Linked DNA regions of Homo sapiens. The protein of the gene in region 2 purifies or fractionates together with the protein of the main gene of each other region. This does not show direct contact. Each region holds a gene or a part of one and is shown on either strand. Other genes may lie near its edges.

The links.
Region 1: the proteins of TOLLIP (region 2) and VANGL2 purify together in Homo sapiens (affinity purification with western blotting, with the first as the bait; 2 studies listed by BioGRID). This does not show direct contact.
Region 3: the proteins of TOLLIP (region 2) and IRAK1 purify together in Homo sapiens (affinity purification with western blotting; 11 studies listed by BioGRID and IntAct, with this or other methods). This does not show direct contact.

The regions. Positions count from the first base shown.
Region 1 is NC_000001.11:160,396,302-160,403,581, reverse strand, and holds the start of VANGL2 (vang-like protein 2), read right to left. Parts: upstream 3,019-7,280; 5' UTR 2,713-3,018; intron 2,408-2,712; exon of another isoform or gene 2,253-2,407; intron 1-2,252. UniProt on the Homo sapiens protein: Involved in the control of early morphogenesis and patterning of both axial midline structures and the development of neural plate. Plays a role in the regulation of planar cell polarity, particularly in the orientation of stereociliary bundles in the cochlea.
Region 2 is NC_000011.10:1,306,614-1,314,370, forward strand, and holds the start of TOLLIP (toll-interacting protein), read right to left. Parts: upstream 3,020-7,757; 5' UTR 2,886-3,019; coding exon 2,853-2,885; intron 1-2,852. UniProt on the Homo sapiens protein: Component of the signaling pathway of IL-1 and Toll-like receptors. Inhibits cell activation by microbial products. Recruits IRAK1 to the IL-1 receptor complex. Inhibits IRAK1 phosphorylation and kinase activity.
Region 3 is NC_000023.11:154,009,989-154,016,906, forward strand, and holds the end of IRAK1 (interleukin-1 receptor-associated kinase 1), read right to left. Parts: intron 6,657-6,918; coding exon 6,449-6,656; intron 6,110-6,448; coding exon 6,044-6,109; intron 4,291-6,043; coding exon 4,054-4,290; intron 3,446-4,053; coding exon 3,055-3,445; intron 2,691-3,054; coding exon 2,541-2,690; intron 1,930-2,540; coding exon 1,871-1,929; 3' UTR 519-1,870; downstream 1-518.

The DNA.
Region 1 (7,280 bases), on a different chromosome or scaffold from region 2:
GGACCTGGAAACCAGATGAGCAGATAAAAAACTGTCCTGCTCTAGGGCCAGGGAAGGGGGGATATTTCCTCAGATCTAAAAGGATCAGGAGGAGAGGCAAACACACCAGAGAGGCCTGCCCCGGAAGAATTAGAGGAAATAGAAGTCAGGAGCAAGACAATGGGTGAGGAGGGGCCAACGTGGCCACTGACTCCCAATCTGGAAGTACTTTCAGAAATGGCATTTCCTATTATCTGACCACAATTCCTCCTCTTTGGAAGAGAGCCCCCACCAGCATAATATATCATGCATGTGATCAGCGTATACAGAGCAAACAAGGGACCCCAGAGGGCCAGGGCACACCATCTTAGATGCAAGTGCCTTACTAGCCCTGGGAGCCCTAACTATCAGACAGGTGTTGGGTTTGGGGGAATGATCCATTAAAAAAAAAAAAAGGTCTTTTAAAGGTCTTTTCCTACTCTGCCCCGTTCCCCGTTCCTCGTTCAAACATTTTCTAACCCCTACTACTCTTATCTCCAGGCCTTAGGGAGGGTAGGGAGCCCTGAGGACTAAAGAGGGAACATTCCAATTGCACATGCCCATTAGAGACTCTAACATTCCAATTGCAATTGCCCAGAGACCATAATGGGTATGTACAATCTCACCTCAGCTCTTAAAACTGGGTGCCTCAACCCAGCCACTGGCAGCAAAAAGAGTGTGCAATGGGGGAAGGCTAGTATCCTAAAGAAGGAGGTGAGCAACCCCTTTCCTATACCCCAAAAGAGAAAGGATGAGAGAGGACAGGGAGAGAAGGGAGCTGTGGCTTCTTGGTGGAAAGAGACATTCACTTCCTGGATAGTCACTGACTTCCCACCACACTATCATGATGATGAGTATAGCAGTATAGCCTGCAATGGGTACCTGGCCCTTTCCCGACACACAGACACTCAGCCCTGGCCCCACACCCACAGCTCCATCTCAATCATGCTTGACACCAGGGAAAAGGGAAACTTTTTGGTCTGATAAACCACACAGACTCACTTGCAAAAGCTGCTGAAGAAACACCCTATGCCACCTTCTCAACCCCATGGGCAGGGAACCCAAGCTGTTCCCCACCAGGTCTCAACCCTCCAGACATGCTTCCTCCTCTTGTTTCCATCCCACACCAAAATCTCAAGACTCCTCAGGAACTTTAGGATCTTAGAGTCAGGGCAGAGTTAGAAGGCTATGAAGCAGCAAACTCTGAGACGGCTTTCCAAGAGAACTGTGGCCTGAAGCTTTTACCTAAGGCTGGGAATCCAAGAGTGTAGCTTCTCCAAGCGCTGGAACCCAGCCTATGACGATGGGGGAGGAAGTTCCTCTTATTCTTCTCCCTGACCCCGCCAATCTTCCAAATTCCTCTAGGACTACAACCAGACCCCTTGTTCCCTATTCCCCACAACACACGCCCTCTTCCAGAAAAACCCATCCCCCAAAAACAGGCACTTCATAAGACAACTCATTCCCTCCCACCCATAGGTCTCAGATACTTAAGGTACTACCCCTAAACCCAGGCGAGGCCATCCACGAAGTCTCAAAATCCTGCAGACAGCCTTCTTTTCGGGATTTTTGCCAGGAAAATCTGCCTGCAGAGTCTAGAGGTACCCCCGACACACACTCAGAAACATACATACCAGCTAAGGCAGGCACACACATTGATACCCATCAACACAGGTTACACACAAGAGAACACAGATTCACACCCCTTCCCAGTACACAGGTGCACACACACCTATCCACATACACTCCATTCTGCTCTTACACACCCACCTTCCTCAGTACCTACACACCTCTTTCCCGTGAACCCCTCTCCCAGTACACACACATAGACATACACGCCCTCCCCTAAGTATACATATAAACACATATCCAAACACACAGCAGATGCATGGTCAGCCGCTCCCTGGGTGCACACACACTCAAGCACAGAAAAACACCTACACATCCAAACCAGGGGCCCACCTGCAGGAACATGCAGCACGTCAAGGCGTGCACACACACCAAAACAAAGAATCATGCACACGGATCCTCCACCAACCCTTCAAAACTCACTAACGCAGAGCCCACAGTCCCCCAGATGGGTAAATATGAGTGGGGAGAGGGATGCCAGCGCCTGTCCCCTCGGCCCCTATACACAGTCTACCGCCTCCAGCCCCATCCTCGGTCTGTACATACACCCTATCTACTCTGCCCAACCCGCCCCCCTGACTCCACTCTACACCCTTAACGCATACCTGCCTCCGTCCCTCCCCACGCTCCTGAGGGGTGTATGCACCCCAAAACACCCTTGGCTTCCAATACCTCCAGACTCCGATCCTTCCACGCCTCTCCCCCCACCTCCAACACAAGCTCCCCGTCTCCGGCTTCAACCGGCTCCCCTGGGATCATTAAGGCCCCCGCCCGGGCCCAGGAAAGTCCCCGGCTCTCCAGGCCTGGGCTCCGCCCCCTCCCCACGAGCCCCTTCCCCTCCCCAAAGTTGGGGGGGGTACTCCGCTGTGCAGTGGGGAAGCGGACCGGAAGGGGGTTGCCCGGAGTCCAGCCCCCCTTCCCCCATAAGCCACCCCGCTCGCTCTGGGGTCGGGCACCCCCTGGCCCCTTGCATGATTTTCCTCCTTTTCCATTTCTTTTTTTCTCTCTCTTTCTTTCTTCTTTTTTTTTCAAACTTTGCCCGCGCCCCCGCGGCCCGGCACTCACCCGCCGCTGCGAACTGCCGGGTGGGCTCCGCGGGCGCCCCGCTCGGCCCGTCGCCTTTGTATCCGCAGCGCTCCGGGTCGCTCCGAACTCGGCGCTCCTGGACAGGCAGCGCGCGCGATGGGGGATGTTGAGGGGGGGGTTCTTGAGTCTGGTCACCCCCTGCTCCGTCCCAGACCGCTGCCTCTTCCCCCTCAAGGCCCCGGGGGCTGGGGGCCAGGGGGGAATAGGGGGCGCTCAGGCTCCCATGGCGGGACCAAGGATCAAGGAATCAAGGATCAGGAATCAGATCGGGAGCCGGCGGCGCAGGGGGGAGGGGGCGGAGGGGGAGGGGATGAGGGTGGGGGGTGCAGGGGGCGGGGGAGCGCGAGCTCCCGGGTGCCGCCTCCCGGCTGTTCCCACAGCCGCCGCCCCTCCTACCGCCGCGTCCATTGTCTGCGGCCCCGCTCTTCCCGGAGTCGCCGCTCCCCCAGCCCTGCGCCTTCAGATGCCCAGCGGCCCTCCCCGATCCTGGGAATCCGCGGTGGGGCTGACACTCGGGTCCCGAACGGTGGGCAGGGGAATGCCTCGATTCTTGGACTTGGCCCAGCCCGCAGTCCCTCCTGGGGCTGTCTTCCTGGACCCCTCCTGTCGGAGAAGGAGCCCCCAGATCCCTGGGGCTGGCCATATTCTCTTTAGGGCCACGGACCCGACTACACAAAATCCAATGGAATCTGGGACGTGGGAAGATTGATTTTTTTTTTCCCCCTAGGGGTCCGAGAAGGGAGGGTCATCCCTGATTTTAATTAGTGGCGAGAGGCGCACGCCTCTTCCCATGCATACGGGGATTTCCCTGACACCATCACCACCATATCCCCTCCTTCCAAAAATAATTTAATTACTTGGAGTTCTAGCTGCGAGCAGCGACCGCCCCAGTCAGTCTGGGACGCTCCCTCATTAACACATTTTTCCTCCCCTCTGGTTTGAGTGTTGGGATTAATTACAAAGGGAACCCTGCCTTAGGGAAGAAGGGGAGGAGGAAAAGACGCGGGCGCCTGGGAGTTTGAATGGCAGAGGAGAGGGGGCCTTCTCCCAGGAAACCTCCAAGAGGAAAAATGCCTTGGCCAGTTGGGTCCCCAACCCCAAGCAGGCAGATTGTCCATCCCAGGAGTTTCAGATACTTTAGAGTTGAAGGTGCCACACAGGGATTGTAGGATCTCACAAAATATCCTACACGTTTGGGGCATTTGTGCCTCCCAGTATGCCAAGAAACCAGTTAGGGTTCTTTTACATGTGACCCTACAAGAGTGAACCCACACCGTAAAAGCCTGGGCTGTGGGAAGTCCATGTTCCCCTTGGAGTAAGTGAAAGCAGTATTCAATTATCATTAATGTTATTGCCGTGCAACCCGCCACTTAGAGTAGTATCATTTCAAAAGCATCTTCACATACTTCTCCCTAAGCAGGCCAAGGCCTTTTCAATATCTCAGCCTCCTTCAGTTTCCAATCCTGGCACCTGCTTGAACAACCCTGTGATTAAGGAATCCCAGAGAAAGAGACTCCCAGCCTCTGTTCCTCACTTGTTTGGGAATTTTTGCTCCTCCCTGATGAAAACTATTTCCTGAGACCTAATCTCACCCCTTTTGATGGTTCATTCTAACCTGTCCAAAGATGAGGACAGAACCAACTATGCTGCATTGTTCAAAGATGCAGAACAGTAAAACACACTTCCTTTCTCCTTTGCCCAAACTCTGTCTTTCCTCATCCCCTCCTCCAGTAGTATGGGTAAGCAGGTGACTCAGCATCAAGACTACATGAAATATGCAGAATCATCATTTCAGGTACCCAAGTCCCTGCATGCGTCCAGGCACTCATTCACCTTGTGCCTATCATGTGCAGGCACTGGGCCGCACTGGGGCTCCTGGCAGTGACCACGACCAGGTGTATGAGGGAGTGGCAGGAGAGCTGGGGAAGGGTTAAGGGAAGTAGGGAGGACATGGGTGTCCCCAGCCCTGCCCCAAAGCACACCCCAGTGCTAGGCAGCTAGTGTGTAATTTGACACAGAGTCGGGGCTGCCGTGGCACTGTCTTGACTCTCAGGCAGATTTAGTGTGAATTATCTTCACATGCTGCTAGCCTGTTTCACAGACCCCAAAATGGCCCAAAGAACTGGAAAAAGGGCTTCTGATGCCAGAATTACAGATAATTCCATAGTCTGGCCCCACTGAAAGCTTGAAACCTAAGTCAGGATGTTAACAGACAAGGCTTCCCAATTAACAGGTATCAGGCATCAGGCTAGAATAAGCTTAGTCCCTCCTTTCTCTGACGGTGAGGTTGGGGGCTTTCAATTACATCTCTGCAATGAAAACACTGGATTACAGAGTCCAACAAAAAATTTTATTGGTGTGGTCTGTCCCATTCAGCAATTCTCTGTATTACCTTCTACCTTCACCTCAGGATAGAATCCCATCTGGATTTCACACGTCCCCAAGTCACTGAGTAAGCAAACAGAGACCCAGCTAGAAGGCCCATGTGCCCTATGGTCTAAGGGACCTAGCTTAATTCTTTAGAAGGAAGGAGAGCACTGAAATGACATTCAACTGAGATTTTCCTAAAGGGGCCAACCTACAATAACAGAGGGAGGCCAAGAGCCTGAGGGACAATAGAATGGAACAGATTGGATTTTGTACAGCTCCTGTCCTTGAGGACATAGTCGAATTTCTTAATTTCTTCAAGCCTCAATTTCTGCTTATATAAAAAGGGTCTAATGAGGTAACAGAAGGAACACCCTCCATATACTCATAGTGCCACAGTCAATTCCCAGTCGAGTTTCCCCTCTCTGTTCTGTGCCTAGGATACTTCTCTTAGGAGAGAACACTTCTCTAGGACACTTCTTTCAGTACTCTTCCTCGGGGAAGGAGGCCCCTAGCTAAAAGCCAGGGCCCTCCATTAAAGCCCTTTCAACACCTCACCAGCTCACTAGGTGGAGGTGGGGCTGGTGGGGTCAGATCAGAGGCTTCCCAGGAGCCCTGGGAGTTGGACCCTCCTGGGGAAGATTCAAGGAACTCAAGAAGTGACAGTAGACTCTCTCTGAGGGAAGGTCCAGACTATAGAGAAGCACCTACCTACTTCCTGTGTGGATGAAGCTGTCCCTGGAGGTCAGGCCCAGACCACAGTAGCAAAAGTTAGGTTTTCTGCTCTGATGAAAAGTAGGGCCTTTTTACAATGCTGCTCAGAGAAAGGGAATCCTTGGTACCTTACTCATAGAAGCTTCACACTATAGCAGAATGGCCATCAAAGTGTTTCCATGTAAGCAATTAGCAATTTTAGCCACCTCCCAGGTACAGGTGACTGCAGTAATGTACCCACATGCAGGGCCACAATCACCATCTACTTCCAGCCCTGCTGATGAGCCTGGGTACAAGTTGATCTCCCGGAATAGTTACAGATCTTTCCCCAGCACCCACCTTCCCAGAAAGGCTACTCTCAATGCTCACAAAAGGATTTCCAGACCCAGTCTATATTGGGAAATACCTGGGTTCTGGGTGTGAGGGGTTTCCCCCTTCACTTTTAGTTAAAAAAAAAAAAAAAAAAGAATAAAAGTAGCTCACACACAAAAAAACTTAACTGGTCAAGAACTGTATTATGTCATAGGCTTGTGGTGAAGTGTCTGTCATGTGAGATCCTGATCTCTAAGAAGAAGGACCATGCCTCATTCATTTCTATATCTCTGGCACATAAAATTCAATAAGTTAGCATTAGCTGCCTTCCCTTCTAGCTTCCTTCTCTTTCTCCCTTCCTCATCTATGAAACCTTGACCACTCCCTATTCATCCAACCTTTATTAAGTGTGAGTTTCCTCAAATCCAATCCCATTATCATTAATCTAAAATGTTACCTGCAATTAAACCAGTGGTTGTGAACTTTGACTGCAGATTTTAATCACCTGGGAAGCTTTGAAAACACATCAATGCCCAGGACCATCCCAGACTAATTAAACCAGAAACTTCTGAGGTGTGACCCAGCTATTGGCATTTTTTTTAAGATACCTCAGTGATTTTAATGTGAGAACCACTGAATGAAACTTTCTGATTTCCTTCCTCCTTCTTGGGAAGAATAGACACTCTCCAGCTCCCTTGGCTGGGACTAGGCCCTGCAGGTGTGCGTTATATCCTGTCCTTTCCCACCTCCATCCATTATTCACAATCTCTCCTGTAACCAACTTCGGCCTCTTCACTGATCTTTGCCCAGCAGACATAATAAAATGAAATACCTTCCTCCACTCAGCAGCCTCCTCTTGCTTTAGCCTTCGCTTTTATTTCTTTCTCATCCAACCTTCTTAAAAGAGTAGATTCTTAGGCCAGGCCTGGTGGCTCACACCTGTAATCCCAGCACTTTGGGAGGCTGAGGCGGGTGGATCACCTGAGGTCGAGAATTAGAGACCAGCCTGACCAACATGGAGAAACCCCGTCTCTACTGAAAATACAAAATTAGCCGGTCATGGTGGCAGGTGCTTGTAATCCCAGCTACTCGGGAGGCTGAGGCAGGAGAATCGCTTGAACCCAGGAGGAGGAGGTTGCGGTGAGCCGAGTTCG
Region 2 (7,757 bases):
GTAAAGGCCCACTATGGGTTAATTCAGAGGGGCTGGGGTGGGTCATGCTCAGCGAAGCAGGCTGGTGCCAAGGCGGGCCCTGCCTTGCGTGTGCCAGGCAACACTTTACAGAGTGCTGCGCTGAGCCGGTAAACTCCAGGGCAAGTCCAGTCCTCCTGTGCCCAGGACCCTCCGGCGGCCTCCAGCTCCTGCCTCCCTCCATCCTCGGCCCCTGGGGCTCCCTCCTCTCCACCTCCAGACCCCACACCTCTCTTTCCGTGCCCTGCCCTCCCAGCCCAACCCCTACTCCCATTCCTCCTCCGAGAGATGTCACGTCCTCACCCCAACACCCAGCCCTGGTGAGGCCCATTTACAAACTCTCCCAGCACCTGACGCTTAAGATCACAGACCCACCGGGCCGTCACCACACAGCTCAGCTGTCCTTATGTGCTGCCATGTCTACCGTGCTGCCCTGGAAGACCCCAGTGGCAGGAACCACCTGGTTGTCCCCTGCATCATGGCCATCCTGAACGCCACAGTTGGTAGCGCTGGTTGATTAAGTCACATGTACTCCAAGCAACACCTGAGACCCCCGTCGCTGACAACACCTTCTTAAGAGACCCTGGCAGCTCCGAGCCAGACCTCATGTTACTATGCGTTTACCGGTCAACGGGGGTGCCCCTGAAATACCTGCTCGTCTACATGATGGAAACAGCCCAGGAGGCACTGGGCAAGAGGAGATTCTAACGACACCTCAGCACTTGCCAGCACAGGCCCTGCGTGTGAGAACATCTCCTGCCGCTCCCACTTCCTCATCGCGGGTGTAACAGCGCTGCACGCCGGTGCCCCTCAGAACAGGAAGGGCCTGCCTCCCACTGCTCCCTGCCTGCTCAGCACCTGATGCATTCAAAATCAGTCCTACACCCCAGTGGGGTTCCAGATGAGGAACAAGTTCCCAGGAGGCAGAGGATGTCTCCCAGACCACACAGCAAGGAAGGGGCCATCCTGCCTGGCCACCATGCCCCCCTGCTCTCCAGGAGGACACAACAGCAGGGTGCTGGTTCCCTTGTTGCTCTGAGTCTCCTGTTAGGCAGAAAGGAGCACTTGGCTGCCACGGCAACTTGCGGGGACTCACTGTGGTGGAGTAAAGATGAAGAGGTAGAGACGCTGCCATCAGAGGCCGTCCAGGACCTCTGCCGACCCGTAGGCTCCACACCTGAGTCTCATAAGTGTCAGGAGGTTTCCTTCAAAGTCCTCAGAAAAAGCAGCTATGCCCAAAACCTGGGGCTTCATTCTAAACTCAGAAAAAATGTTCTACCTGAAGAATTATCTCCTCGGGAGAAACACCAGGACTTGTGGATACAGTGTTAAGGGTGGGGAGCCCTGGTGACCCCTCCACCACGTCCAGTACTGGGCTGCGCGAGGGCAGGGACCTTGGAGCATCGTGAAAAAGGACTTTTTCCACCCACGGCATGTTCAGAGCCACTGTTGATAAAAACTGTACCGCTCACGACAGCCTGCCCCAGCCCAGCCTCAGTGAGTGACACGGTTTGAATCTGTGTCCCCGCCAAATCTCACGCTGAATTATGATCCCCAATGTTGGAGGTGGGGCCTGGCAGGGTGGGTGTGTGGGTCACAGGGACAGATCCCTCGTGGCTTGGTGCTGTCCCGGTGATAGTGAGTTCTCACAAGATCTGGTCATTACAGTGTGTGGCACCTCCCCACCCCCAACTCTCTTGCTGCTTTCGCCATGTGACGTGTAAGCTCCCACTTGGCCTTCCGCCATGACTGGGAGCTTCCAGAGGCCTCCCCAGGAGCAGATGCCGGCACCATGCTACCTGTACAGCCTGCAGAACCGGGAGCCAATTAAATCTCTTTTCTTACAAATTACCCAGTCTCGGTATTCCTTTACAGCAATGCAAGAAGGCCCTAACAGTGAGCCAGGAGGCCACTCACGCCAGGAGCCCATCATCTCTGAGTCAGTCTACACCAGCTCTCCTGCAATATTAATGCTATAGAAGAAACTGCCAGGCAACTCTCAGGAGAGAATTCAGAGCAGGAAAGGTTCTCTGAAGTTCCTGGCGCCTATCCTCTCATTTGCAAATGAAGAAACTGAGGTTTTGCACGGTGGCCACTAACCGGGGACACAATTGGGCCCAAGAAGTGGTCACCACTGCCCTCACTCTGTGTAAATGAGAAAGAGGAAACAGCCATCATCTATGGGACCAACTAGAGTGCAGGCCCGCCTCCACCTGGGGGGCCATCAGGGTGCGGGACCCGCCTCCACCTGGGGGGGCCATCAGGGTGCGGGGCCCGCCTCCATCTAGGGTGCCATCAGGGTGCGGGACCCGCCTCCACCTGGGGGGCCATCAGGGAGCAGGGCCCGCATCCATCTAGGGGACCATTAGGGTTCAGGGCCCGCCTCCACCTGGGGGACCATTAGGGTGCGGGGCCCTCCTCCATTCGGGAGTCAGAGCTCGGGGCCGCCTCCATCTGGGCACCGGGCCCTCCTCCATCTGGAGACCATTGGGGAGCGGGGCCTGCCTCCCTCTGGGGCACCATGGGGCACGGGGCCCGCCTCCATCTGGGGCTCACAACGGGCGCAGGCCCCCTCCCCCGGGGCTGCCTCCCCAAAGCTCTGCCCCGGCACGGCGGTGAGCTCAAGCCTCCTGCAGCGTGGGCGCGTCCGTCCGGCCCGCCCCGCCCCGAGGTGTGGACGCCGCCGCTCCCCTCCGGCCGGCCAGGCGCCCCGCGTGCCCCGGGAGAGCCGCGGAGTCGGCCCGCCAGCCGCAGCTGAGCAGTAGCCCTGACCCAAGGCCCCGCCCGCAACCGCAGGTCACCGCCCCCGCCCGACCCTCGCCCGGCTGCCTCACCGGCCCGCGCTGAGTGCTGACGGTGGTCGCCATGGTGCTGCGGCGGCCCCCGTGGCTCGCCGACCCGACAGTGACGCGCCGGGCGACCTCCTGCGCCCCCGCCGGAGCCTGCGACGGAGACAGTTGTCACCTCGAGGCCGCCGCCGCCACAGTCAGCTGACAGCCGCCGCGCCCCGCCCCCGGCACCGCCCCACTGCGCAGGCGCCGCGCCAGGCACCGCCCCTTCCGGCTCTCGCGCGCACGCGCGCTCCAGGGTAGGGCAGGCGCAGCCTCTCGCCCGGCGCCTGCGCACCTGCTCTCTCCTCGAGCCCTGCAGCCCGGCGAAATGGCTCCCGGCGGGGCCGTTTGCGCATGCCCAGTCATGACGGTTGTCGGCGCGGGCCCTAGCGTGGCGGCGCTGCAGTCTGGGCAGTGGGTTGGTTCCTCCTCGGTCCTCTGTCGAGTGGCGACAGGGCCTAGCCACCTGGCGGGGGTGACCTTCGGACGTGCGACCCGCTCGGAGAAGGGAGGGAACTGTGGCCCGCAACAAAGCAGTGACAGGCCCGACATCCCCTGCAGGGCGATCTTTCCCTCAGCTGCCTGCCGGAGGAAGGGCCTTTCTGTTTCACAGGGCTAAAGATGGGGCGCGGTTCCTCCACGGGGCGGCTGCCGGGTGAACGGAACGGGGATGGAGGCGCTGCCAGAAGAGCCCGAGCTCGAGCCCGCCCTGCCCTCGGCCTCCCCGCCGCGCCGCTCCGCAGGAGCCCCGCTCCTCTCCTGCTCGCTCCGGAGAACCCCAGTCCGGCCTGACCTCGGCCCTCGCGGTCAGGCGCTCCAACCAGAGCGACTCCAGCTCGAACAGCGCTGGGTAAACTGAGGCTGAACCCCGCTGGCTGCATCCCCAGGAGTCGGGCGTTTACGGTCACGGGAACAGGTTAATAAACTTTTACGCAGCAGACCCGGAACTTAGGTCCCGATGTCCGGGTATCTTAAGAACAAGAAGCATTCTTAGTTGAAGTTTCGCTTTAAAGATAATGATACAGATGCTTGCGGAGGACAGGCGTTATGCAAAGATTGGCAATCCTTTGACGAGCCCAGGTAGTACAGCACGTCTCCCCCGTGATGTTTTTTGGCTTTTATCTTACATATAAACAAGCGTACCCAGGTGGACGCCTTCCTCCTCGTGCTTTTGGGAACACCCTGCTCTATGGAGTAGCCATTCTTTTATTCCTTCACTGCCTTAATAAACTTGCTTTCACTTTACTCTGTGGACTGGCCTGGAATTCTTTCTTCCACAAGATCCACGAATCCTCTTTTGGGGTCTGGATCAGGACCCTTTTCCGGTAACACAACCACTCCACTAAAAACTCTTTGTCAGTGATCTCTATATTGTTAGTGGTCAGTTCTCAGTCCTCGTCCTCCGGGAACTACAGCAAAATCGATAGTCATTCTTGCTACACATGCTTTCTTCACTCCCCATCCAGGACACCATGTGCTCTCACTTTCCTCTTATCCCAAAGACCACATCTTTGGGTCTCGGTTACCAGTCTCTCCTTTTAAAACCGGCAGCCTGGCCGCTTGCCTGTTTTGATGGGGTGTAGAGAAAAAGAACGAAAGCCCCTTCCTCAAGTTGTAGCTTAACATCCAGCCAATCCACAGCACAAGACCCAAGAAGCTATTAACCACAAGTTCCTGCTTTGGGGGCCTAGGGACTTCCCCGGGCCCCACATGTGCAGTTAGACTTATACTTCAACTATTGTTACCCCTTCCTCATTTTCACGCTAAAAATCACACCTAGGGGTAGAGATTTAAAATGTGAATGTTGCATGCAATGCATGAAGAAGCATGCAAAGCTACTGAGAAGCACTAGACAAACCCCTCCTATCCATGCCTGGACCAATCCCTTCCCTGTGAAACTAACCCACGTGCCACCCCCTGGCGGCGGGGCCCCCCACCGTTTTCCTTTCATGGTGCTGACTTCCTTGTGCACAAGCTAAATAAAGATTTCTCTTTCTCCTCGCTGCTATGTCTGCTGATCTCTCTTTATTTCTATCCTGGGAGATTACAAGATGCCAGGGCACACTGGTAACACTTTGACTCCTTAACATCGGAGTGCCTTACCTCAGGGCTCAGTCCTTGCACATCTTTTCTATCTACATCCTCAGTGAGCTCATCCAGTTCCATTCCTTTAAATGCCATCCATATGCTGATGATCCTAAAATCTGTATCTCCCACCAGGACCTCCGCTAAACACTAGATTCAGCTCTTGCCTTAATATTATTCCCCTATGGGGTGGACAGGTTGTAAGGTAGACATATGATCCCTGCCTCCTGGTGTTCACATCCTTGAATAATCCTCTTGTCTTGAGGGTGGACAGAGCCTGTGGCTTGCTTTTAAACAACAGAATATGGCAGTGGTGATGGGATGTCCCTCCCATGATTACCTGATGTTATAAAAGACTCCATCTTGCTCTCAGACTTATTCTCAAGGGTCTCTCAGCTGCTGGCTTTGAAGAGGCGAGGTGCCATAATTCCTACAACTTCAAGGAAACAAATTCTGCCAGGAATCTGAGGGGGCTTTGATCCTTCCCCAGTCAAGCCTCCAGATGAGAATGCAACCCAGCTGACAACTTAATTATAGCCTCGTAAGACCCAAGAATAAGCCAGCTAAGCTGTGCCTGAACTCCTACCCCACAAAAACTCTGAGATAAGTGTGTGTTGTTTTAAGCCACTAAGCTTACAGCCACGTGATCTGACTTAAGCATTATTAGAATTCCAGAAGAAAAAAGGAGAATGAGGCAGAAAATCTGAAGAAATAATGGCCAATAATTCTCCAAGTTAATGGTAGGCACCAAACAAAATATTTAGGAAGCAATGGATTCCAAACAAATAAACAAAACACTTAGTCAGGTCATATTCACACTGCTGATAACAGAAAGCAAGGAGAAACTCTTAAAAGCAGACAGAGGAAAATGACACATTACATCCAGAAGAATGAAGATTAGAATAGCAGACTTCTCATTGGAAAGAAGGTAAGTCATGTGAATGGAGTGACATCTTTAAAGTGCTAACAGAAAAAAAATTATATGTCAATTGAAATTTCTTGCAAAATGATATGGCGATGTATTTCAGAACAGTGGTTATCTATGTGTGTTGGAAGTGAGGGACTGGAGATTGACTAGACAGGACCATGAGGGAACTTTCTGGGGTGGTAGAAAGATTATATACCTTGATTGGGATGGAGTGGTTATACCAATGTGTAAATTTATCAAAACTCACATGATTGTAAACTTATGATTTGTGCATTCTGATGTATGTATGTAAGTTTTATCTCAATAAAAGGTTAATGACAAAAAGAAAACACTTTCAATATATATGACAGAGTTAGTCTAAATGTATTAAGAGTGCCTACAAATTTCTAAAAAGAAGACATACAGGCTGGGCGTGGTGGCTCATGCCTGTAATCCCAACACTTTGGGAGGCCAAGGTAGGTGGATCACTTGAGGTCATGAGTTCAAGACCAGCCTGGCCAACATGGTGAAACCCTGTCTCTTCTAAAAATACAAAAAAAAAAAAAAAAAAATAGCCTGGCGTGGTGGCACATGCCTGTAATCCCAGCTACTTGGGAGGCTAAGGAAGGAGAATTGCTTGAACCTGGCAGGCAGAGGTTGCAGTGAGCTGAGATCATGCCACTGCACTCCAGCCTGGGCGACAGAGCAAGACTCTTTCTCAAAAAAAAAAAAAAATGTCTATTCATGTCCTTTGCCCACTTTTAAGTGGGATTTTTTGATTTTTTACTGTTGAGTTGTTTGTATATTCTGGATATTAGTCCCTTGTTGGATGAATACTTCGCAAATATTTTCTCCCATTCAGCAGGTTGTCTCCTCACTCTGCTGATAATTCCCTTTGCTGTGCAGAAACTTTTTAGTTTAATATAGTCCCATTTGTCTATTTTGTTTTTATTGCCTGTGCTTTTAAGATCTTAGCCATAAAATCTTCGCCTAGACCAGTGTCCTTAAGTGTTTTTCCTGTGTTTTCTTCTAGTAGTTTTATACTTTCAGGTCTTACTTTAAGTCTTTAATTCATCTTGATTTGACTTTTGCAGATGGTGGGAGATAGGAGTCCAGTTTCATTCTTCTTCATCTGGATGTCCAATTTTCCAAGCACCATTTATTGAAGAGGGTGTCCTTTCCCCACTGTGTGTTTTTGGTGCCTTTGTCAGAAATCAGTTGGCTGTAAGTATGTGGATTTATTTCTGGATTCTCTCTTCTGTTCCATTGGTCTATGTGTCTGTTTTTGTATGAATACAATGCTGTTTTGGTTATGATACTTTTGTAGTTTATTTTGAAGTTGGATAATGTGATGCCTCCAGCTTTGTTCTTTCTGCTCAGGATTGCTTTGGCTATTTGGGCTCTTTTTGTTCCATAAATATTTTAGGATTGTTTTTTCTATTGCTGTGAAAAATGATGTTGGTATTTTGATAGGCATTGTATTGAATCTATAGATTGTTTTGGGCAGTATAGCCATTTTAATAATATTAATTTTTCCAATCGGTGAGCATGGGACATCTTTCCATTTGTTTGCATCATCTTCAATTTTTTTCATCAGTGTTTTGTAGTTTTACTTGTGGAAGTCTTTCAACTACTTGGTTAAATTTATTCCTATTTTTTTTTGTAGCTGTAGCAAATGGAATTATCTTCTTGATTTCTTTGTCAGCTATTTCATTGTTGGTGTATAGAAGCACTACTGATTTTTGTATGTTTATTTTATATCATGCAACCTTACTGAATTCATTTACCAGATCTAATAACTTTTTGGTGGAGTCCTTAGGTTTTTCCAAATATAAGATTATATCATCTTCAAAGAGGGACAATTTGAATTATTATTTTCCTCTTTTTTTCTTTTTTTTTGCCTTTTATTTCTTTCT
Region 3 (6,918 bases), on a different chromosome or scaffold from region 2:
TTTTTTTTTGAGGCAAGGTCTCCCTCTGTTGCCCGGGCTGGAGTGCAGTGGTGGAATCATGGCTCACTGCAGCCTCAACGTCCTGGGCTCAAACTATCCTCCTGGGTCAGCCTCCTGAGTAGCTCAAACTACAGGCATGCACCACCATGCCTGGCTAATTTTTGTACTTTTTGTAGAGACGGGGTTTCGCCATGTTGCCCAGGCTGGTCTCAAACTCCTGGCCTCAAGTGATCTGCCCGCCTTAGCTTCCCAAAGCGCTGGAATCACAGGCGTGAGCCACCGTGCCCAGCATCAATTGCATTTCTGTATAATATCATGATGAACTAGAAAATCAAAGATACCATTTAGAATAGCATAAAAAACATGGACTACATCAGGAAAAACCTGACACGGGAAGTGCTGGGTGTGGCCAGCCCAGAGTAGTAACAAGACCCTGGACGCTCAAGAACCCTGAAGTGTAAGGCATCAGGAAAGCTCAAGGCTTTCGGTGCAACAAAGTCCACAAGTAGAGCCCGAGATTGCAACATACGTTTTTATTACTCAAGGACAACCTGGACGTCACCAATGCCCAGCTTCACGGGGGCATGTAGTGTGACTCACGGCTGAACACAAAATCACTGTGAAGCCTGTGCTACAGCCCTGGGCTACTTTTGGACACGCAAGAGGACACTCGGTTACATGAAACCTGACTTGCTTCTGAAGACATGTGATACATGTCTTTTCCCTGAAAATGTTTCCCTTCCCTGTCTGCCATGCTCCCAACTTTTCTGCCTTCCAGGGGCTTCTCACTGTCTGGGTAACTAGGTCTTGGGCCTAGCTAGACCTTGGGTAGTGGCCCCTCTGCCACAATCAGTGCCTGGGCCTGAGGCTGAGCTTGTGGCCTCCGAAGCCTGACCTGGCTCGGAGCTCGTCTGTGGCGCCCAGGGATGGCCTGGCTTGCAGGCCACCACATTAGGCCAGCTCGCAGGTCCCCAGTAAAGCCTGAAGACACTGGCCCGAGGTTGGAGGTGGGTGCTGCTCGACTTTCTGGAGGATCTCAGAATTCTCGCTTCTTGCTAGGACTGAACCATGAGACTTACAGCCATACTTCACTTTTCCCAGGGTTTTTCTTTTTGAAACAGGGTCTTGCTCTGTCACCCAGGCTGGAGTGCAGTCATACAATCATGACTCACTGCAGCCTCGACCTCCCAAGCATAAATGATCCTCCTACTTCAGCCTCCCCAGCAGCTGGGACCACAGGCGTGCGCTACCACGCCAGGCTAATAGTTTAAAAAATTTTTTGGCAGAGACAGGGTCTCATCATGTTGCCCTGGCTGGTCTTGACCTACTGGGCTCCAGCGATCCTCCTGCCTTGGCCTCCCAAAGTGCTGGGATTACAGGCGTGAGCCACCGCACCCGGCCACACTTTTCCAAATTGTAAGCAGGTAGGAGGGCCCTAGGCCTCGTCGGCCCCATTGTGCAGGGTGGCCACTGTCCAAAGAGATGGGCAAAGAGCTGCTGCCAGAGGCCTGGGCTGCAGACGCCCTGCATGGCTCTCAGGGGAGCCAGCTCCCTACTCCACACCCCTGCACAGCAGCCCCTCTCCTCCCCTCACGGGTCTGTGCAGCCAGCAGCCTCCCAACATGCGCCAGCCTCCTCACTGGATGATGCCAGCCTTCCTTGCCCCCAGATGCTGGCATGGAGGCAGGGTTCCACTCTGCCTGCCTATGCCCACAGAGCCTAGAACAGCAGGGCCACCTCCTTCTCTCCCCCGCGGGCATGGGCCCCCACCCCCACTGCCGGCAGAGTGCTGAGGACTCGTGCACCATGAGAACTTCTGACCATGAGAACTTTGACTTCCGGATTTGGGGGATCTGCCCAGGTGAACACATCAGCTCTGAAATTCATCACTTTCTTCGGGCCCCTGCCTGTCCTGTTCCAGGCCCAAGCCTACAGAAGGAAGAGGAAAGTCCGCTTAGCAAATGGGGGAGGCTCCCCTACTGCCAGAAGCCCTGGCTCAAGGCCTGGGCCATGCTCCCTTATCTCCTGGGGCGTTCGTGGGAATTGAGGGTTTTTGTTTGTTTGTTCATTTGTTTTTGAGACAGGGTCTAACTGTCTCCCAGGCTGGAGTGCAGTGGCTTGATCACAGCTCACTGTAGCCTCCACCTCCTGGGCTCAAGTGATCCTCCCATCTTGGCCTCCAAAAGTGCTGGTATTATAGGCATGAGCCACCTCGCCCAGCTGAGGGTTCCTAAGCAGTGGTTCTTCAAATAGTACCTGGGATGGAAAATTCCTGCTGGGGCTTCCTATTTCCTGAAAGCACAGAGTGGGGCAGGCACCCTCGGGCTAAAGGAGGTGCTACTGTCAGGAGGCGAGGGAAGGAGTGGGCCAGGGTCTTGCTAAGGGAGGCATGTGGGGCCGGCTGGGCTTCTAGAGGTCGCCAGAGCCAGTGGCCTGCCCGGCTGCCCCACGCCCTCAGCGCAGTCGGGACAGACACTCTGCTCTTTGGGGCTGACACGGATGCGCCTGAGCACCCCAGAGGCCAGCCTGGGCGGCAGCACCTGGGAGGGAGCTGGACGACAGCAGCTGCAGGCTGTCCAGGGCCCCATCCTCGTACAGGGCCAGCTTCTGGACCATCTTCTGTCGGGCAGGGTTGATGATAATCTGCGGTGGCTCTGACGACGATGATGCAGAGCTGCCAAGGGCCAGTCCTGGGGTGGAGATGGCACTCCCTTAGCCTCATGCTGTGGCTCCCCAGCCCGCAGCCTAGCACCCTGCCTCCCTGGCCTCAGGCCTGAATTCCTCAGAGAAGTCCAAGGGCAGGGCCCAGCTCTCAGGCTACCAGACAGAGCCCTCCTTGTTCCCAGCCTTCAGGAATGGGGTGGGGGGAGGGCTGGAGAGCAAGCTCCACCTGGGAAGGATGTGGCCTGGGGAGGGGAAACCAGGGTTGCTAAGGTCACAGTGAGCTGAACATTTGGCCCTGGTTCTCTTCTAGAAGGCTGGGGTGGGGACTTACAGGGGCTTTGGCCCAAAGAGGCCTTGGTCCCTCTCCTGGGAACCCGTCTCCCCAGCTACCTTCCACGGCTGTGGGCCGGGATCCTGGGCCACTCCCCCAGCTCGATTCTCCTGCCGTGTCCCCCTGAGGACAGCCGGCCTCCCTGAGGGGTGCTGGGTCCAGAGGGCAGCTTGGAGTCAAGTGCCAGGAGCGCAGGGCAGCAGAGAGGCCGCCTAGGCTCTCGTCACTCTCCACGGGCTGGTTGGGGCCTCTCTGCAGCTGCTCTGCTGCCTGGGCACTGGCTCCTGATGGCGCTGCCAGGGGCTGCCATGGAGCAGCCCCACTGTGGGCTCTGCCAGTGCTGGACACGTAGGAGTTCTCCTGCGGGGAAGGGGGGATGCAGCTGGCGGCCTCCGAATGCCCGGGCACCCCCGCCACCACTGCCTGCAGCTTCTCTAGCCTCTCGTACACCTGCAAGTGGAAAAGAGGGACTCTCAGGGTGAGATGGCAGCCCTGGCCGGTCACCCCGTGGGCAAACCACAGGGCTGCTCCAGGCCGTCCGTGACCTGCCCCAGGGCTCTAAAATGACATACCCTGCAGCTGGGAACGCTCTGCCCCTCGCCCCTCTGTTCCCATCACAGGGAGTGCTGAGAAGCGCGGCTGCCAAAAGCAAGGACTGAGAATGGCCTCGTTCTTTTCTACAAAATGAATCTCACTGCCCCGCTGCCCTCAAACGGGGCCTCTCCATTTTCAACTGTCACCAGAGGAGAAGAGGTGGGGTACTAGGGAGGGGACAGAAAAAGGCAGATGCAGTAGTGCAGTGCGCCCAGCAGGGGGCGCGGCAGCAGCTCTTTCCTTCTCTCTATGTGAAGGGGGTCGGAGCTGGGCTCCGCAAAGCAGGACTGCCCGGGGCCCCTCAGTTCAGAGGGGCGCTGCCCCAAACAGAACCAAAGGGCAAGCAAGAAATGTGTGGAGACTCCAGAGAGACCTAGCAGGTGCTGAGATGGGGTCACTACAGAGCAAGGCCTGGAATGCGGGCTTTCTATCTGGCCACCCCGTCCCAGTGCGCAGCTGGCTACCTGGGTCATAGGAGGCCTCCTTTTGGCCCGGCGGTGCAGGCAGCAGCAGGCCAGCTGGCCCAGGCCCAGGCCCAGCTCAGGTGGGCAGGGCCCGGGCCTGGGGTCCAGGTGCTTCTTGTAGATCTGCATGGCGATGGGAGCAGCCCAGGCATCTGCAGCCAGACCTGCTTGCAGTGTGCTCTGGGTGCTTCTCAAAGCCACTCCAGCCTCCTCAGCCTCCTCTTCCACCAGGTCTTTCTGTGGGATAAATACTGTCAGTATGGCTACCAGGTGGCCACACCTGCAGCTGCAGTCCTCAGGTCCTTGTCACTCAATCGTATGGGTTTTGATAAAAAAAAAAAAAAAAAAAAAAGAGATGGGGTCTCGCTTTGTTGGCCTGGCTGGTCTCCAAGTAGGCTCAAGTGATCCTCCCGCCTCAGCCTCCCAAAGTGCTGGTGTTACAGGTGTGAGACACTGTGCCACAGCTCTTGGTCTTTCTACAACTTACTTTTTTTCTGAGACAGGGACTCATTCTGTCACCCAGGCTGGAGTGCAGTGGTGCAATCATGGCTCAGTGCAGCCTCAACCTCCCAGGCTCGTGATCCTCCCACCTCGGCCTCCCGAGCAGCTGGGATTACAGGTGTGTACCACCATGCCTATCTTGCTATGTTGCCCAGGCTGGTCTCCAACTCCCAGGCTCAAGCGATCCTCCTGCCTCAGATTCCCGAGTAGCTTCTAGAGATTTATTAAACACCTACTGTGGGCCAGTGGTGCTCTGGGCCCTAGGGATACAGGAACAAACAGAACCCTGGGACCCGGTTTGACAGAGCTGACTTCCTGGTGGGGGAGAGCCCCATGGAGCTGGGGTCTGAAGGCAGGAAGTAGCCTGAGAGGGCAGAGCCGAGAAGGAAAGCGCCCCACAGAGAGGTGCCCCACAGACAAAGAGGTACCCCAGAGAGAGAGGCGCCCCGCAGAGAGGCGCCCCCAGGGTGGAAACAGGACCGGAGGCCATCTCCAGTTCTGAAATCAGACAGACCAGGAGGAACCACCTGGGTGGGCGGTGGCTTTTCTCGCAGAGCGAACGGCACATACTAAGGCTGTGAAGCAGGCAGCAGGGAGCGCCCCGAGTCCCAGGGACCTGGGGCGTTGGGGGGTCAACCACATAAGGGACTGGGCCTTCACCCCAAGAGCAGAGAAAAGGCAAAGGGGCCTTTGAAAAGAGCACTTTGGCTGCAGGGTGGGGAGCAAGTGGGGAAGTCCAAGGACCCCCAAGGAGCCTGGTGCGCTTCTTCAGCAGGATGCATGGATGGACGGACGGGGAAGGGAAAGGAAGGAGGGCTCAAGCCCGGCTCCTGGGTTCTCAGCGGGGCTGAATCCTGACGGAGACCCCACAGCACACAGGAACCGCCCCAAACAAGAGGAGAAGCAGTGAAGCAATTACTGGCTGAGCACATTCTGTGAAGTCTGTTTTGCATATGGGAAAACAGGCCCACAGGGGAGCAGGAATTTGCTGGAAGGCCACTGTCAGGCTGGGGCTAAAACCCAGGTCTCTAGTCTCCTGGCCCCACCACAGTCCACGGTGAGGCAGACTGAGTGGAGTAAGACCGTGAGGCAGCTCAGGCTGCCCTGCACGGTGCGGAGAGCTCAGCTGCAGCCTGCTGGGGCCCAGGAGGTTCCTCGGGGCCTGCTTCTTCTCTACCACCGCCTTTCTCCGGCCAGAGTCCTCTGAGTTCCACTGCAGCTTGGGTCTCAGTGCCCTGGGACCGCCCTTCCCCCTGCCCCCAGCCCAGGTGGGGTCTGTACAAGGCCCATAGTGTCTGCAGGACAGACAGGTTTGTCCTCGGCAAGGTAAACGAAGTTGTTTGGAGCCCTGCCTACTTTCAAAAATGAGGCCACTGTGGCAGCAGAGGCATCCATGGGCACTGCGCCCCAGTTATCCCCGCCACTGGGGCTGTGCCTGCTGGCTGCCAGCAGCTGTGTGTCCCTCCTGGCCCTGCCTCAAGGGGCTCACCAGATACTTGGTCCTGGCACCGTGCGTCTTCACAGCCCTCTGACCAGCCAAGGTCTCTAGCACTACCTGGAGAGAGGGAAGAGGGAGAGCATGGCAGTGGCCTTGGCAGGGAAGAGGCCTCTGGTGTGGACATGGATTGGGCCTGACAAGGGTGTGGACAAAGGCAGAGCCAGATGTTATGGGACTGAAGCTCGGGCAACTCGGAGAGCCCACTTGAAGACAAATTACAAACACACAGTTAGGTGCAGGGTGAGGAGGAGGGCCTCGGAGGGAGGGGGACCCTGGAGCTGCAGCCTCCTGGGGTCTTGGCAGATGGCCCCTGGCCCGCAGTGCACTCTGCAGCCCCCACCTCTGCCTGCCTGTGGCTTCTCCTCCTCTGAGCCAGCAGAGGGGTCAGTGGCTCACCACCCCAAAGCTGAAGGTGTCCGTGTCCACAGCCAGCCTTCCCGTCTTGATGTACTCCTCGGGCAGGTAGGCCAGGGTGCCCCGCACTGTCTGTGTCCGGGCCACCATGCTGCTCTGGCTGGGGCTGGACCCGGCAAAGCGGCTGAACCGGGCCAGGCCAAAGTCTCCCAGCTTGGGTGTCAGCCTCTCATCCAGAAGGACGTTGGAACTTGGGGAGAGAAGACAGTGGCGTCAGCCCGGTCCTAGCTCCTACACCTGCCCGGCTTAGATAAGGCTGGACTCGAGGCTGCCAGCCCGGTGCCTTGCCCACAGAAAGCGCTGGCACTGCCCTGAGCGCTCCAGCTGCCTGGGGGCCTCTGCTCATCAGTAGGGCCCATCCTTGGCCCGTTCCCACACCTGTGCGATGCCGGGGTGTTGAGGTCCCAGGCCATGCCTGATCCCCACATTGATAGGACGCGGGGCCCCCCTTG